Linked DNA regions of Homo sapiens: all the other regions are linked to region 1. Evidence: fine-mapped expression QTL. A gene starts in region 1. Each other region holds a variant in brackets. All regions are shown on one strand. Distances are between the middles of the regions.

Evidence for each region.
Region 2: its variant is fine-mapped to the expression of DMRT3 in thyroid (GTEx, PIP above 0.99).
Region 3: its variant is fine-mapped to the expression of DMRT3 in thyroid (GTEx, PIP above 0.99).

Annotation. Positions count from the first base shown.
Region 1 is chr9:974,417-978,656 of GRCh38, forward strand. DMRT3 (doublesex and mab-3 related transcription factor 3) reads left to right here and starts at 2,239. Exons shown (of 2, transcript NM_021240.4): 1 at 2,239-3,039. The coding sequence starts at 2,586. RefSeq lists enhancers at 1-872, 1,405-1,906, 1,907-2,406.
Region 2 is chr9:998,947-1,003,186 of GRCh38, forward strand. It overlaps the pseudogene RNU6-1073P. Among named protein-coding and RNA genes, the nearest start is that of DMRT3, 24 kb to the left of the region's middle. The variant C/T (reference allele first, on the strand shown) is at 2,292.
Region 3 is chr9:911,388-915,627 of GRCh38, forward strand. All of the region lies in intron 3 of DMRT1 (doublesex and mab-3 related transcription factor 1), which reads left to right. Among named protein-coding and RNA genes, the nearest start is that of DMRT3, 63 kb to the right of the region's middle. The variant G/A (reference allele first, on the strand shown) is at 2,363.

The sequences.
Region 1 (4,240 bases):
TATATCAAATGAGTATTTAGATCTCAGCCCCCGATGTGCACCGGAGTGAAACGGGCCCCCGGGACCAAATGCCAGACTGTTTGAGTGGCAACGAGATAGGGTGGCTAGGTGACCGACGGGGGAAAAGGGGTCGCCTTGGTAGTGAAAGTGCCCCCACAAACCTGGTGCAGAGCTCTTCTGCTTTCCTTTTAAAAATTTATTCATACTCAAGTTCTTTATACTTCCTCGTTTCACTGTTTGAAGAAAATCGGAAGAAATTTGGTTTTGAAAAAAGTCGTTGGTCCCCACGTTTCCAAGAGATCCGGAGGTTTCAGCGCAATAGTTTTCAGTTAAGGTGTCATTTGAGGCCCTCTATATCGCAGCACGTTAAATGACTCGCGTCCAGCTCCCCATTTCCTAGCCTCGGGCCTACAGGGCTGGGGGCGACCTCTGCCTCCCGTCCCCAGAGCTTACAAAATTCCTTCCAGTTGTATTTTAGGGCTTGTTTTCCTAGAGAAGGTTGAGACTAGAGGAAGGATTAAAGTGGTGGGGGAAGGGGCAAGACCGAGGGGTCCCTACCCCACGCGGCTTTGGAGGATGGCCTCCCAGGGTTAGCACTCGAATGCTAGAGCTTCTTGTCCACACTCTACCAGGTCAGTGTCCCGCGATCCCCACCTCCCGGACGCGTATGAAACGGGAACAGCTAAGGGCTTCAAGGGAAACACACAACTGGGGTTCGGTTTTCAACCCTCCTCTCCGCAAATCAGCCTTCTGGGCAGAGGGTTGGCTGCTAGAACGCCTGGAGGTGCTTCCCTTGAATTCATGGCAAACACCAGAGGAAAGTTTTCAGGTTGCTTGCTTACTTCCAGGGCAGTACAGAGAAAAGCGGCCTCCCCGAGGGGACAAGGGCCTCTGTGCCCATGAGGGGTCGGACATTGCAGCGGACTTGCCTACGCTCTCATCTAGCATTTGATTCCCCACCAGGAGATGGGCTTGGTGCACGCTCTCAGAAGCGCATCCACCGAAGGCTCTGGAACTGCCCCGCTTCGCATAGAGCTATTGTGCTGCCCTGCAGTGTATCCACTTGTTTTGTTTGTTTGTTTGTTTTTTGGTTTTTGCTTGTTTGCTGATGGGCAGTGGGGAGGTGCGAGGGTGGAGGGCCTTCTTTGTGCATATATAGCGATAGTCTGCACTAGGCCAAGCCCGCTACTCCTGGGAGAATGGGAACACGCAAATAATCTAAACAAAGTTTTCTGCTGTCATCTTGTGAAGGACCCTCTCCCCCAAGACATCTATGACTGGGGTCTATGGGTTAAGGAGGTGAAAAAGTGGCCCCATCCCATATCCATAACTGAATCACAGAATCCGTGGGGATTTGAACTGAGTGGCTGGCGCAAGACCTCCGTTTGCTTCCAGTAGCTGCTGGGAGCGAGGGAAGAGGATATCGGTAACTTTGGGGGCGCCAATGTGGCTTCTGTGTCTGCCCCTTGAAAGTTTATACCCGGCGCTTAACAAATCCTTTACAGGAGCACGTACGTCCCTGACCTTTCAGGATACTGTTTTATATTAAAACATGGACAGGAGGGTAGAAAAGTAAAATTCGCCTGCAAAATGGCTTGTCATCCTTGGGCCGGCAGATCTCCAAAACCATTTTCTTCTAAAGCAACAAAAGAGAAAAAAATACGTTCTAAAAGGAAATTACGAAAAGAGCCTAACTTTCCTAAACCAACATCACTTCACTCCCCTATCCTAAACTCCACCCAGGTCCGGGGTGCAACCGCAACACTCCCGTAGGTTCGAGTTCTCCCGGAGCTGAGCTTCTGCGGCCAAATGTCGGGATAAAAGCGGCCTTGGGCTCGGAAAAACGCGGCCAGATCTGGACTGGAGGGAGGAGAAGAGAGAGAAGCGGAGCGGCCACCTCACTCGCTTACAGGCACCCCCACCCTCACTCCCGCTGGTCCTCCCCTTCTCCGCCCCGCGAGCACCGCCGCGTTCTGGAGCGCCGCAGTCTCCAGCCGCGGGCTGGGGTAGCGGAGAGGGCTTGGAGGAGGGGGCCGCGAGCGCCCCCGCGAGAGTGGCCTGGCTGCAGGTGGCAAGGAAGGTGAAGTGCAGGCACCCGAGGGGCGCAAAGGAGGAGGAAGGCGTGGGGCGGGGAGTGCAAGGAGACAGGGACCCCAGGGGCGGGGGTGGCGGTGGGAAGGAGGAGGGGTTGGGGGAGGGCGGCGGAGGTGTTGGGTCCGGCCGGCTCACGAGGGAGCTGCAGAAGAGCTGGCTCAGACCTTAATCAGAGCTGTCGCCGGCTCCTTGCAGCCGCCGCAGCGCCTCCGCGAAGGAGGACGTGCCGACCCGGCTGCGCGCCCAAGGCAGAGGCCCGCGTCGGCGTTGGCTGGGCGTGAGCTGGGAGGCCGAGCTGTGAGCGCGAAGGGAGCTGGAGAGACGACTGCGGCACCTCCGGCCGCCCCGGAGCACACACGACCACCGGGGCTGCGGGACCAAGGGCCGCGTCGCCCGGAGGCCGCCCCTGAGCGGGCCTCGCAGCCCCGCCGTCCAGCGCTCCCTGGCCCTCTCCCGCAGCCAGGCTGCCAACTCATTCGGGAGCCCGGGGCATGAACGGCTACGGCTCCCCCTACCTGTACATGGGCGGCCCGGTGTCGCAGCCGCCACGGGCGCCCCTGCAGCGCACGCCCAAGTGCGCGCGCTGCCGCAACCATGGCGTCCTGTCCTGGCTCAAGGGCCACAAGCGTTACTGCCGCTTCAAGGACTGCACCTGCGAGAAGTGCATCCTCATCATCGAGCGGCAGCGGGTCATGGCTGCGCAGGTGGCGCTGCGCCGGCAGCAGGCCAACGAGAGCTTGGAGAGCCTCATCCCCGACTCGCTGCGCGCTCTGCCAGGGCCCCCGCCGCCGGGGGACGCCGTCGCCGCCCCGCAGCCGCCGCCAGCCTCTCAGCCGTCGCAGCCGCAGCCGCCGCGCCCTGCTGCCGAGTTGGCCGCGGCCGCCGCGCTGCGTTGGACTGCCGAGCCGCAGCCCGGGGCTCTGCAGGCGCAGCTCGCCAAGCCAGGTAAGAGCGTCTGAGGTGCGGGAGTTTGGCCGGGCGCGGGGGCAACTTCGGAGTGCCAGCTGCAGCTCCACTTGGGAGGACTGGAGGCAAAGTTTTGGGACGTGGGCCTGTCGGGGCTTTCCTTCCTACTCTCCGCCAGGCCGGGGCTTCCTCTCCCGGGAGAAGCCGGCTGAGTCTGGACCCAGCGCGAGTGGCACTCGCGCCCGCAGGGAAGGCGCCTCCGGGCAGCCAAACGACGGGACTGTGCGTCAGTATCGCCAGGTGCCTTCCCAGGTTGAAGGGTTCGGAACGTGTCAGATTGAGCAGGGAGACAACGGAGTTGAGACAGGACAAAATTAAAACCCACGTGCGCACACTCACTACGGTGGGGTCGGATTTTCCTGGCTGCAGGCTTTAGAGGTCCTTGCCATTTGGGGGTTGGAATGGGTAGGTAGGTGTAGGGAAGGAGCCAAGGCCAACACTCGGCTGAGTCGAGCTGGCTGTGCTTCTCGGCCGGCCCGGCCCTGCCCAGGGCCCAGGAAAATTTGAGTGAGGACAAGTATCCAACTCTCAGAACCCTGGCCTTTCTAGCTTTGCTCCGTGGCCTCCAGACTCTTGTAACTGGTGAAATAAGTTCCATTTAGCAATGATAGTAAAAGGGTCCGGAAAGGCTTGTGAGCTGATAGCGGGAAAAGAATCTGATGCGCCCAGAATTCACTCCTTTGCAGAACCTCCTAGATCCTTTAACACTGTTCCCCAGGCTGCCCTCAGCTGTCTTCGTGGTTTAAAGGAATACAAAAAATCTGATCCCCCACCACCCATCCGTTTCCATCCAGGCCTCCTGAGCTTGGCAGGCCTGAGTTGAGTCTCTTAGTCTCTCTCTTCCTGGGGAATTTCTAGCTTGCGGTTCTGCCCAGCTCAAGAGCTCTTTTGATGGCTCTTGGAATTCAGTGGATATGTGTTTGGTGTTTCTCCTTAACTGGGGCAAATGTGCAAAGGAACACAGCCCACCTTCTCCCGGAAGGGGGCATGCTGGAATTAGGAGTGGGAAGGTCCAGAGCCCTCCTGTAAGTAGAACTGTGGCAAAACTGGTACCTACACTGACCTGCCAACTCCCTAAAGACGGTACCCCTAGCTTCGGAGAAAGGCTTTCAGGAGCCCAGGACTGCTTTGTCTGGATCCTGTGGAGCTGAGGAAGTGAGGCGGACTCACCTGTTTCATG
Region 2 (4,240 bases), 25 kb after region 1:
GGAGCCGCCTGCGTGAATGTTCTTCCCGGCTCTGCTGCCCCCTGGAGGCTAGTGGAGGTAAATGCGTGAAGTCGGCGTTTTCCCTCCGCCTGTTAGTCCTCCTCATTCATCTCTCGGCCAAACCAGAAAGATGTGAGGGTATTTCAAAGATATCTTTGCTATATTTTATTTCACTCAAATTCAAGGATCCCTCTCCCAGGACAGCTGTGACTACAGACCATGGGATTCACATCCTCCCACCCCACGGCGCAGGACCGGCAGGGGATCTCCAAGAAGCCCCTAGCCTATGGGTCGCTGAGACCCTCCTAGAAGTTTCAGCCTGGCTGATGACATGCATGTGTGTTGACCACGGCTTGCGGATTAAACTCAGATATGAATTATCTAATGCCGCCATGGAGGAAATGTAATGTTAAGACCCAACTTTATTAAAACTGCTAGGCAAATAATAGAATGCCAGGAAAACCATTTCAGCCATAGTTTCTCCAAGGGGCGCCTATGACTCACTGGATCTGGAATCCCCTGAAGTGTCTGTTCAAACAATTTAGATTCTTAATCCATCTTTAAACCTTCTCAACCAGAACTTCTGGGAGGGGATATCTCCCTCCCTCCCAGGAATCCACAATTGCAATGAGAACCTTGAAGTCCACTCCTGTCCAGGGAACAGCCTTAGAGAACTCAGGCCCTCCAGTGAAGGAGGAAAAGACAAATCTAGTTGTAATACTTGAAGTATATTGCTCATCTGTAAATTACCCACCCAGGTGAATAAAACACTCTCTCAGGGTAAAAGCACATGTGAATTTGTCCAAATCATTGTAATAAGGCTCCTGGGGGTGGGGGGTGGTTAACATCAGTGATCAGCAGCAACTATTAATACTAACTACATCATCCCCACAGGGCTTGGGGTGCAAGGACAGTTATTTGCCCTTCATAGTTATGGATTGGTTCGATCAATTAAAAGAAAAATTACCCAAAGAGAATTTTTCTTTTTTTAAACTCAGAGTGAGACCCAGTCAGTAAGCATTTTGAACTGTGGGTGGAGGACCCAGTTGCCTTACAAGTGTGCCTTTGAAGGAGGAGGAGGAAGAGAGGAAGAAAGGAGAAGTGAAGACGGAGACTCTCTTTGGGCAAAGCGGGGCTTTCAGCACGTTCGGTGGTACAGCTCTGACCCTGGCCAATCATGGCACTGACCTATGCCACCATATGGGGGTGGATCGAGGTGGGTGGTGGCATCTGGGATCTCTGCTTGGCTTCCCGGTTGAAAGGAATATCCTCTGCAGCTCCACCGGGGAGCAGGGCGGACAAGGTGAGATAGTTAAGTCTACAGGAAGGAGGGAGGATTGTGGTTTCTGAGCTGGCCTCCCTCTCCCAAGGGGTGGGAGGGAGGCCTGGAGCAACCTCAGCTGAGATCCATTAGCTCCGGCCCCCACCAGAAGCACGGGCATGATGAGTGTTTGGAGGACAAGGGAAGTGAGCCCACCTGTGCCTGGGAGCACCAGCATCTGCTGCAGCTATTATGGCAGGGAGAGGAAAGGGCACTGCAAAAGCCAGCGCGGCCTGCAGAGGATACACCCATAGGTAGTGGGCTTGACCCTCAGTGAGTAGAAGGGATAGGGAGAATAAAATGCATTCCCGTTGTGGCCTAAAGGCCTCCCAACTGGAAGGAAGCCAGGCAAGCCTGACCAGACAGCGGGTTCCAGTGGCCATTTGCCCAGGAGAGTAGCCACTCTGTGGGTGGGATCAAGTCCTTCCTACAGCATCGCATACAGTTATTCACACACCAGAGCTTTGGTGACTTGTTCTGAGCCTAGCTGGACCCAGATACCTTTGTTTTCCAGTTTTCCTGATAAATTAGCGCCAAAGAAGGAAGAGCTCATTAATCAACTGTCTTGGTCCATATATAAGACACCAGTTAAACTTGAATTTCAGATAATCAGTGAATAATTTTTTATCATAAGGATGTCCCAGGCTGAATTTGTATAGGTATATATTTTTATGTGTGTGTGTGTGTGTGTGTGTGTGTGTGTATATATATATATAACTATGTCCAGGGAATAGTATGTAAGTATAATATATAATACTGATACATGTAGCATATGATATAATACTTATATAATATTCCCTGGACATAATTATGCTCTACAATATATGTATGGCCTATACATACTTATACTAAAAAATTATCCATTGTTTATCCAAAGTTGAATTCAACTGGGCATCCTATGTTTTTGTTAGCTAAATCTTGTAACCCTACCGGAAGCGATGTGTCTGTGGTATGACTATAGCTGTCGCCT[C/T]GGTCATGTCCCTGCAGTTAAGAAAACAGGAAAGCTGAAGTGGTAACAAAATGGGCTGAAGGCCTAATCCAGCCCTCAGGTGTATTTTGTTTGATTAGTACAGAGTTTTTGTTTTCATTTTCAAGTAATTGCCAACATTGAAAAATCCAGAGATCTCACGTATGCACCGAGTGTTTAGGCATTTCTGGAAAAGGTGGAAGATCTGTCAATATCGTATGGAAACAAATTAGATGTTCCCTGTCTTGGTCTCACTCATTTGTGCTTCTTTCCTGTAGCTGAATTTGGGACAGATCCATGTAGGGTATTCAATTCCCTAAAATTTTCCCTAGAACAGGGAGGAACTTTTTTTGGGGTGCTGGAATCCCTGAGTGCCTGTTGAGCCTGACCAGGCTGATCTAAAGCAGGAGGGCTCTTTACCCCTCACCCTCGACGTCTGACCTGGAGACTTGCTCCTTATAAGGCTTACATGTGACCTGGGACAGGTCCCTTGCTTCTCCCAGGGTCTCTATTTTCATCCCTAAAACAAGGGGACAACTATCCATGTTTCCCAACTTTTTTGTACCAAAAGTTCTGTTTTGTCAACCTTATGCCACTGTGGTTCCAGTTTTTGCTTGTTTGTTTGTTTTATAGAATGGTTCACAAATTTGTGAGTCATCCTTGCTCAGGGCCACGCTAATGTTCTCTCTGTCATTCCGATTTTGGTATGTGTGCTGCTGAAGCGAGCACATGGACCCGATGTTTTCAAAGATCTGTCTACCCAAGCAAATGACATATGTTACAAACAGCCTGTAAGTTCTGGCCTGCCTGAAAGCTAACTGGTTTCATCACACCACATGGGTCAAATTCCCTCTAAAAGCAAAACCATTTTGTAAGCTCCTGTAACCTTGCTGAAAATAGGAATGCCTTTAAAGCCAGTAAGGGCTGGGTGGGGTAGCCTAGGTTACACTTCACTAACACACTCCAAAATTTCAGTGGTTTAACACATAAAGGTTTATTTTAAAACTTTAACCCGTGCAGAATCTGCCATGGGTTTGGCAGCTCTTTAGGCAGTGACACAAGAATTGTTTCCTTTTTTTTTTTGAGACAGAATCTCACTCTGTCGCCTAGGCTGGAGTGCTGTGGCATGATCTCGGCTCACAGCAACTTCCGCTTCCCAGGTTCAAATGATTCTCCTGCCTCAGCCTGCTGAGTAGCTGGGATTACAGGCATGCACCACCATACCTGGCTAGTTTTTTATAGTTTTAGTAGAGACGGGGTTTCACCATGTTGGACAGGCTGGTCTTGAACTCCTGACCTTGGGCGATCTGCCCTCCCAAAATGCTGGGATTACAGCCACTCTGGCTTTAGTTTCCTTCTTTACTGTGGCTTGACCATTTCCACACGTGGTTTTCCTGGCAGGGGAGGGTGTGCTGGTGGGCTTTCCAGGGCCTCACCTCTGCTCACATTTCATTGGCTGGATCCAGTGCCATGGCTTCACTTAGAGGAAAGGGCTAGGAGGTAGAGTTTTCTGCATGCCTGGGAAGCTGTGGAGAAAAGCATACAATGAAACTAAGAGGTGACACCACAGGGACATGAGCCCTTTCAGTTCCAAAATCCTACATTCTGTCATTCTTCAGAGTGGTCACATGGTGTGGTCTGTAGATACACTGGCTTGACCTTTAAGATGACTGACTGCTGTCAAGCAGAACAGATGCTACAGATATGTTGAGCTTTAAGTAGTTCCAAATCCTATGTTTCCTTCCTGATGATAATAGCTTTTTTTTTTTTTTTTTTAGACAGAGTTTCGCTCTTGTCACCCAGGCTGGAGTGCAATGGCTCGATCTCTGCTCACTGCAACCTCTGCCTCCCAGGTTCAAGCAATTCTCCTGCCTCAGCCTCCCAAGGAGCTGGGATTATGAGCGCCCAACACCACACCCAGCTAATTTTTATACTTTTAGTAGAGATGGGGT
Region 3 (4,240 bases), 63 kb before region 1:
TTTTCTTTTTAAAGTTAGAAGAGAGCAGGAAGTAATTTAGTTTGAAATTGCATTCTGCCATGCCTTTTTCTGGGTTAATTGCATTTTTTTTTTTTTTTTTTTTTTTTTTTTTTTTTTTTTTTTTAGATGGAGTCGCACTCTGTCGCCCAGGCTGGAGTGCAGTGGTGCAATTTCAGCTCACTGCAACCTCTGCCTCCTGGGTTCAAGCGATTCTCCTGCCTCAGCCTCCCAAGTAGCTGGGATTATAGGCGCCTGCCACCACACCCAGCTAATTGTTTGTATTTAGTAGAGACGGAGATTCACCATGTTGGTCAGGCTGGTCTTGAACTCCTGACCTCAGGTGATCCACTCACCACAGCCTTCCAAAATGTTGGGACTGCAGGCGTGAGCCACCGCGCCCATCCATGAATTGCAGTTTTAACATCCTGTTTATATTGCTACACATGCACTTAGAAACACATAGAACTGTCCTTTTCTTCTTATGAGCAAGTTGTCACGTGGATGGGTTGTTTGTGGATTCTTTGAGGTGGATGTAGCTGAAGTGACTGATGACCTCAGTAAGTTCATGTACTAGTCTGTTCTCACACTGCTGTAAAGATACTACCCAAGACTGGGTAATTTATAAATAAAAAAAGAGGTCTAATTAACTCACAGGTCCGCATGGCTGGGGAGGCGTCAGGAAACTTGCAGTCATGTCAGAAGGCGAAGAAGAAGCAGGCACCTTCTCTTCTTCACAAGGCAGCAGGAGAGAGGAGAAAGAGAACAGGGGAAACTGCCAAACACTTTTAAAGCATCAGATCTCAAGAGAACTCCCTCCATATCATGAGAACAGATTGGGGCAACCGCCCCCATGATCCAATCACCACCGCCTACCACGTTCCTTCTTTGACACGTGGAGATTACGGTGTGAGATGAGATTTGAGTGAGGACACAGAGCCAAACCATATCAGTTCACATTCTAGTAACCTCAAATGGAGTCTGACCCTTTGTATCTTTTTCTTCTTTTACTGGAATTCTTTTATAGCTCAGTGATCTTGGGGATTCATTAAGGATAGTGAATGTTTGAATATAAATAACTAAATTCCTATTTCCTAATAGTTCTTTTTATTTCATGCTTTTGGAAAACATGGAAAAGGAATTAAGGGAATAAATAAGCACACGCATGGATTTGAAATTGTGTTTATTTTCCAGTAAGCGTTAGTTAAAAAAAAGAATTTTACTGTTCATCTTCATCTTTTTGTCAAATAATACATACATTGGGATTGGCAGCGTTAGCCAGTCTATTTGTCAGATTTAGCCTGTTTTAGTTAATATAGGGGATTGTTGGGATCTCGTACTTCCAAGGTATATGGACGATATGTTGGTAATTGTAGAGCACTGGTTCTCAATCTCGGTGTCATATTAGAATTAACTGGGATCTTTGAAAATATCCAGGGCCCAGGCCACATCCCAGAGCAGTTAAACCAGATTTTCTTGAGTGGAGTCCAGGCATCAGTACTGAGTTCCCTTCTCACCTTACTCCAGTGAGAGTGAAGTTTGAGAAGGAACCAGTGCCACTGTTTACAAATAAAGTTTTATTGGAACACAGCCATGCCCATTCATTTTACAAATTGCTAGAGACTGTATGGCTTGCCTAAAATATATATACTGTTTGACATTTACAATAAAAAGTTTGCTGACACCTGCTATAGACTCATGATCAACATTTTTCAAACATTTTGAAAGGAAGGTTTGTGTAAACTTTCATAGTAAAAAAAACATCCAGCATTTTGCAGAGCATTTAGGCCCAAATCCTATCTGTTTTCTTGTACCCTGGCAAAATTGAAAAGCATTTTCCTTGAAGAACTGGCTTGAAGATATTGTCAAACCTGAAGTAGATGTGACAAACTCAGCCCCCAGAGCAGGGAGGCTCCATTATTTATATTACGGCTTATGTCGGCACCTTGCTTCTAATTCAGTGTTCACTACTCAGACTGTGTAATTGACTTAAGGAAGTCTATGGAGACACAAATGGCTTTTCAATTCAAAGTGTGTTTGAGTTTTTACTGCTGCAGCAGTTGTAGATGGCAACAGACCCCTGAAAAAAATCTTTTAGTTCTGGGGAATTTTGTGTATAAAAATAAAAAAAGAATGAAAATTAAAAATTGCTATTTACATAGTTTCACTTTTCCAGTTCAGCTGGAAACTGGATGGTTGTAAGCAACTGGTAATTTTTTTTTTTTTTTAAGCTGGGGCAGTGGCTGACACTTGTAATCTCAGCACTTTGGGATGCCGAGGCGGGCGGATCACTTGAGGCCAGGAATTTGAGACCAGCCTAGGCAACATGGAGAAAACGTCTCTACTAAAAATACAAAAATTAGCC[G/A]GACGTGGTGGGGCATGTCTGTAGAGTAGGCTACTCAGGAGGCTGACGCAGGAGAATCGCTTGAAGCCAGGAAGCAGAGGTTGCAGTGAGCCGAGATTGTGCCATTGCACTCCAGCCTGGGCAACAGAGTGAGACTCGGTCTCAAACAATTTTTTTTAAAGGGTTTCCTTTGGTCTTGGGTTCTGAGAGGTACTAAGTATGAGAGGAAGGATCACGTATTCTAGTCCCTGGGCACCAGCAATATCAGCATCTCCAGCCCAGTCTTACCATCAGGACCTGCATTTTAACAGGACCCCCTGGCCATTCATATGCGCATTGAGAGCTGCTGGGAATCATCAAAAGATGCTGCAGTGCTCTAATTGATAACTGGGTGTGTGTAGTAAACAGCTACCATGATTGTCCCTTTTCTCTTAAATGGTTTAGTGGCTTCTTAATGGGCTCTTCTGCTGTGTGGTCTTATTTATTAGGGGTAGCCAGTTTTTCCTTTTTGGCTGTTTTCCGAGTATAGCTTCTTTAACCTTCTATTTAGTAAAGATTTAATGTGGCCAGGCGCGGTGGCTCACGCCTGTAATCCCAGCACTTTGGGAGGCCGAGGCGGGCAGATCACGAGGTCATGAGATCGAGACCATCCTGGCTAACACGGTAAAACCCTGTCTCTTCTAAAAATGCAAAAAATTAGCCAGGCATGGTGGCGGGCGCCTGTAGTCCCAGCTACTCGGGAGGCTGAGGCAGGAGAATGACGTGAACCTGGGAGGCGGAGCTTGCAATGAGCCAATATCATGCCACTGCAGTCCAGCCTGGGCGACAGAGTGGGACTCTGTCTCAAAAAAAAAAAAAAAAAAAAAAAGATTTAATGTAATGGTAGAAAGTGAAAACGGAGTGATTGGCCTAGAAGAGACACCATTTCATATACTTCAGAAAAACAAACTAGAAAGGATAAAGGGGACTTACCCAGGTAAACTTCACTTGAGAGGAAATAATCACCTGTAATGGTATCTTTGCTTCTCCAGAAGAAGTAATCCACTCATGAGAACATAGATTTGAGCTTGAGAGCAGTAGAGATCAAAAATAAATTCCTTGAGCTGCTCAAAGCATCAGGCAGAAATCAGGGACTTAGCTCTTTCTACCAAACAGCACCATAATACCCAAAGTACACTTAAGCCAGTGTTAGTTGGTGAATTGTCCAGAATGTAGATGTTCATAGAAAATCTTGAGGAAGCCCAGTGCCTAATTTTACACTACCAGGCTCTGTCAAGTTAGTGCTATTTTCTTTTTCAAGTACCATTTAAAATACTTGATTGAAAAACATGATTTTGAATTATTTTGGATTATTTTGAAATTACTCATATTTCTGGACAGAATTGGTTTATCTTGAACATTCCCTTAGATCGAATTTTGTTTAAAAGCGAGTACCATCTAAATTTAAGTTTTAAAAGACTGTCATAAATAACTGAAGTCCAGCTCTGTTGTTGCCGTGAAGATGTGATCATGAGTTGAATGCTCGGTGTCTCTAACAGGGTCTAGATGTTCATGGAAGTGGGTCTTACACAATCAGAGTCATCAGGGCCAGGAAAGTGGAAATGGAGGGGGGGCCCTTTCTAAGCCATCAAGTCATATCTTCTTAGCTTTGAATGAGAATCAGGAAGCCACAGGGAATGAACTGCTTCTTATATAAAAGCTATCTCATGGTCCTAAAGGCAGGGTCTGGTTGCCGGAAAAAAATGAATGACTGCTGTGCTCACATGCAGCTGCCACTGGAGGGGCGCTTGTGCCTCCTTACTGCCTTCCGAGTTTTGCTCTGCCCCATGTGTCCAGTTAGCAGAAGCCAAATCACCTCCAGAATTCAGATCTCAGACTCCTGTTCTTGCTGCAGGGAAC